Regions from separate parts of the Homo sapiens genome. Here region 2 is linked to region 1. The links come from fine-mapping of genetic effects on gene expression. Tissue or cell type: whole blood. Region 1 holds a variant in brackets; the other region holds the start of a gene. All regions are shown on one strand. Distances are from middle to middle.

Region 1 (2,500 bases):
ACTTCTATAACTTTAACTATATATAAATGATTTCAGAGTTTCTTAGTAATTTGTAATTATGCTGAGAGAACAGAATGTCCTATAAGGTTAACATGCTTCATCAGCATATCACTTAGCCACAAAATATACTAATTAAGACTTAAACATATTAGAAAACCAGCTCCTATCACTTACCACTTATATGATCTTGAATCACTTATTTTACCTCTCTGAGCCTCAGTTTCCTTATAAAATAGAAACAATAGTACCTATTTAATTGAATTTGGGGAAGAATAAAATAACATAACGCAGAGAAAATACTTTGCCTCTTACAAATTGAGTATCAAATAAACCTCAGATATTACTACTAAGACCAGTATCAGCATTTCCAGTAGCTTTGTTTGCCTCTCTCACTTTGTACCATTTTATGGGGAAAACTACATGCTATCATGATATTCGTAAAGCTAGAATTCTTAAATATCTTATTCCTTTATAAATGTCAAGATTCTACTGCTTTTGCTAAACTTAAAGAGAAAAGTTATATTATGGTATTTATCACATCATTCTTCAATTATGAAATGCTATATACACGAAAGGAGAGTATAATTGTTTTATAGATTGGAAAATTTATTTGCATGATAAAATAGCATCAAATGACATTAAATTTTCAGCTACCTAAAATTCCCATGAGGACCGCAGGTTCCTTGGATGGAATTTGTTGTAAGAAGGGTAGGATATCATCAAGTACAAACCACTTATCCAAGTATTCCAAAATCTTTCCTAAGCACACTAATGAATTTACACGAACCTATTAAAAGAGGTAAATTGCATTAGTCATTAAAAGTTTTCAAAATCTAGAACAAAATATTTAAGTGTAAACTTAATCTTCATATAAATATGTTAAAGTCTCAAGAATAAATGTAGATTTAGAAGCTCTCATCCTTTATCAACATAGGAAATTCACTTATTTACTAATTTTCCTGGCTTGTTTCACAAAGAATTTATGATTGCTTCACCAGGTCACTAGTGAGCTAAAGTCAAGGAATGACTACAATCTTGTAGCATTTTAAAGTGATTAGAATTTGAGAAACTTTTACTACATTATGTGTTACTATCATAAGAACACTCCTTTGGGGACATTTGAATAATAAAAAGGACTACATTCTTTGCACCAAGTGATCATTTTCACCCACATTCCAGTATTTTACTCTAACTTGGGTTCAATTCATTTTTAAACTAAATATTTTAACATGTGAAGGTATCCATATATGTGTTTTCTATTTCCAAATATACAGTTATTAAGACCTCTTATTTAGAAGCTTTTATCAAAATTCCATATGCACTTGACTATTTGATAAATACATCATACCCTACTTCTATTTGGAATTTCTTAAGATAGAATATCTTTAAGTCAGGACTA[T/C]AGTATTAATAAAACTCCAGTTTTCAAAAAACAGTAAACCAACAAAGGCAGAAAATAATTTTGTTGGCTAATAAAGCACCATAGTTCTACAGGAAAAATGGGGAAAAATTTCCATTTCTAAAAAACAATGTACAATTGTTTTCTGAAATTAAAACACAAGAGATATTATAAATTCAAAAAGGTATCTGAACGCTTAACTTGTACTCATAATTCGTTTTATAAAAGGAACAGCTGCATTCTACTGAGATATATATATATTTTAAGCAAAACCGAGAATACTAATTTTATTTACTTTTAGGATATATAAAATATTAGTCATGTAAGTAATGAATAAATATAGCTCTTGGAGGATTTTACCTAACTCTGTGTAGAATTTTTAAAAATTTTATTTTCAGGGAAGAGTATTAAGACACAATACTAACTCACGACTCAGGAATTTCCTAGTCAGAATTTTAAACTTTTAGAGATAGAGGACTATGAATACAATTTGGGAATTCCTATTTGCCACTCTGAAGGTAGGCAGAAGCACTGAAAGTACTATCTAAAATCCACTTAAAAGGTGACATATAAAATGTAAATCCATTCCTAGTTACTGTTCTAAATATAAATACATTCATTATAACTTCTTGTAAACAACATGCCTTAACGGCCAGTTGGCATCTTAAAAAGAAACATACATATAACTGGGCAGCAATTCACATCATTTAAGTATCCATGTTTCCCATTTCTACATACCCCTACATATGCTCAGAACTGAACTAGAACAGGTACTCGCTTTGCTTTGGTTTTGGATTTTTTTTGGGCGGGGTGGGGAGCGGCGGGGGCTTGCTCTGTCACCTAGACTGGAAGGAGCAGCACAATCACAACTCACTGCAGCCTCGACCTCTTGGTCTCAAGTGATGCTCCCACCATGCCACCACATCCAGCTAAATTTTTTTATTTTTAGTAGAGACGAGGTCTCGCTGTGTTGCTCATGCTCGTCTTGAACTCAGTGCTCGAGATCCACTCGCCTCAGCCTCCCAAAGTGTTGGGATTAAAGGTGTGAGCCACCATGCCCGGCCTACAACATGTACTTTGAGAAAATGTATGTTAATATAAATT
Region 2 (2,755 bases), 59 kb after region 1:
GTGATGCTACCCACGGAGTTAAACACAGTAAGAGGAGCTATTTTTCTTCTTGGGGTGGGGGAAGGGAGGTATATCATGAATTTCAAACATGTGAATATGAGTAGTTATTCCCAGTAACAGGGTTGATCTGTCTAGAAAGTATTCCACAGTATAGAAGTACAATGTGCCTGTATTTATTTTACTGGGTATTTATGAATCTTAGAGACAAAATAGGTTTCTGCATGTGAGTAATGTAAATCTAAAGAGAATGAAGGCCCTTACCTTCCATTAGGTTCCCTTCCTTTACACAATCCCCCAAAAGCATTCTTTATGATTACAGTTTAATGTTGCCTCAAGAAGTAATTTATATACTCAGCTGATTTCATTTTTAAATATTTTAAAAATATTTGTGCTAAAGAATAAGACAGCAAACCAAACAACAACAAACCTGCAAAGTCCAAAAGGAATCTTCAAGCACCTGACTTTCAAGCCATCACCAGAACATAATGGGGTTTTACAGTGGCAGGCTGATTTGGAGCATTTTTGCTAAACTATTTATTTTTCAGAACGGAGATAGGCTACTTAGAAAACTCACTCATAGTATCCAATGTTTTTAGAAAGTGTCATCACAAATAATTCCTGAGTTTGACGTACTAAAAAATAGTTGACACCTTCCAATGAAGTCACTACAGGCATAGCGCTTTTAAGCAGCTTGTCTGGAGCCTCCTCGAGTGCCTTAGAGGGTGGATTTGATAATATGGCCTCCTTAATTACGGATCACAGGTATGTGCTCAAAGTCCAATAAGTTTTTGCAAGCTTTATCGGTCTAAACCCTCCTCCATCCGTATTCTCCCGTTTAGAAAAACAAGACTGCAGGAGTAACCGTGGGGTTTTTTCTCTTAACAAAACCCCTGCCCCACCCACCTCACACACAATAACCTTCCATTCCAGAACTAAAGCTACTGTCAGAGAAGGACGGCGGGCGGCAGGGCCCTGGCTGGTGACCCAGGCTACCGGATTCCGGACCTCAGAACTGAGGTGAACTCTCTCACCCGGTCCTAGAGTAGTGTCCAATGTCCCCGAAAGGTACTACGTTCTCCACCACCGAAACCCGAGCTCTCGAGCCGGCATGGGGGGCTCTCCCTCCGGCAGCTGACTTCGATCCCGGGTCTCCCGTCGCCTCAAGGCCTCTTTCGAGGACTCGGCCCTCTCGGATCCGCTCCCCGGAGCTCGCTGCTCGTCCAGCCCCGCTTTGCGCGGGCGCCGACCGCCGATCGCCCGGCCGGCCGCCGGCAGGCCCGTCACCAGGCAACACCCACCAGCCTGAGCGGCCCTGGGAGGCCTAACCCGGGCGCGAGTCCTCCATTCCCTCCTCGCCGGCTCCGGGAGCCCAGGCGAGAGAGCCGCCGGTGAGGGAGGTCGGTCGGTGCCGGCGGCCGGTCACTTACCTCTTCCTTCTTCCAGGAGGGGCGGTGCTGGGGCTCTTTCCCCCCGCCCCCCTAATAAACGCCTCCTGGCTGTTCCTGCTCTGCCTTCGTGCCTGGCCACTGACTCTGGCTTTACTCCATATCCTCCGCCGCCCCCGCGGCCGCAAACGTCGGAGCTAGAAGGAAAGGGGTGGGGAGGGGAGGGACCGGGGACGAAGAGTAAGGGAGGGGGAAAAAGACTAAAAGACCTGCCGGCCGGGGGCATGACGTCACTTCCTGCCGGTTCGGAAGAGGCGGAGCCAGTACTTCTCTCCGCCCCGGGTGTCAGGTGGGGCGGGGCTATGGTGCCAGGGGAGGAGCCAGCGCGCGAGCTTATGGCGGTTCTTTTGACTCCGAGGTTCCGTAGACTTGTCAGTCAGAACGAGCTTCCGGGCCCAGGGCTGAACGGGCCAAGTTCCAGGAACCGTAGAGATGGCTTCTGCCGGAAAAGGAGGACAGGTAGCCCTGTATATCCTAGCCAAATGTGCAGTGAAGGTGGAGGGGGCAGCTGAAGGGAGCAGGCGGCTGGGACTCTGCTCCTCATTGGTCCAGGGCCCCGCCCATTTCCTAGCCCCGCCCCCTTCCTGCCCTACCAGGCACTGGACTGGGGGACCCAGGACTGAGGCTTTTTAGGGGTTACTGTGGTGAAGTGCCCTTGGAGCGTGCAGGAAAGCGTTTTTTCTCAAACTTTAATATACATACGAATCCCTAGGATCTTGTGAAAGTGCAAATTCTGATTGAGGAGTAGGGTCTGATAATCTGCGTTTCTAATACATGTCCAGATGGCACCAATGCTGCTGGTCCCTAGGCTACACTTACAGCAACAAGGGGTTAATGTACTAGAGGGCAAATTCCTTGAGCTAGAGGAGTTATTTCTTTAATCTAGCCTACTTGTTTAATGAAGGTTAGAGAGGTAGACTGTCTATGGAAAACAGGCTGTACCGCTGTATTTTCCACCTACCCCGTCGAGTACCCTCCTGCCCACCTCCGCCCATCACTTTCTGGCCTCCCCTCCTCAGTCTCCGCTCTGCCCACAATGTCTGGGGATAAGATTTCTTGAGTGATTAGACGGGTAACTTCTGTTACAGAAGGAATTTGAGGGTGGTGGATTTTTATTTCTGTCATTTTATCGTAAACATATGTATAGTTGGGCATACTTTTGCGGTTATGCATAGTTGGAGAAGAGAGCTTAAGTTCTTGGATTCTACCCACTTCCCCCTGCAAATCTAGAAAAAACATTCTAGAAGTTCTAAGTTATTCCCTTATCATTCTTTAATTTTTTTAATTAATTTTAATTAAATTTAATTTTA

Evidence for each region. PIP is the estimated chance that this variant, and not a neighbour inherited with it, causes the effect.
Region 2: it holds the start of SCYL2, and the variant in region 1 is fine-mapped to the expression of SCYL2 in whole blood (INTERVAL, PIP 0.95).

Annotation. Positions count from the first base shown.
Region 1 is chr12:100,324,909-100,327,408 of GRCh38, reverse strand. SCYL2 (SCY1 like pseudokinase 2) reads right to left here. Exons shown (of 18, transcript NM_017988.6): 12 at 655-787. Among named protein-coding and RNA genes, the nearest start is that of SLC17A8, 31 kb to the left of the region's middle. The variant T/C (reference allele first, on the strand shown) is at 1,400.
Region 2 is chr12:100,266,069-100,268,823 of GRCh38, reverse strand. SCYL2 (SCY1 like pseudokinase 2) reads right to left here and starts at 1,647. Exons shown (of 18, transcript NM_017988.6): 1 at 1,032-1,647. It overlaps DEPDC4 (DEP domain containing 4), which reads left to right and starts at 1,745. Exons shown (of 10, transcript NM_001364818.2): 1 at 1,745-1,904. The coding sequence starts at 1,748. RefSeq lists enhancers at 1,013-1,072, 1,083-1,152, 1,823-1,902 and silencers at 1,223-1,302, 1,403-1,452.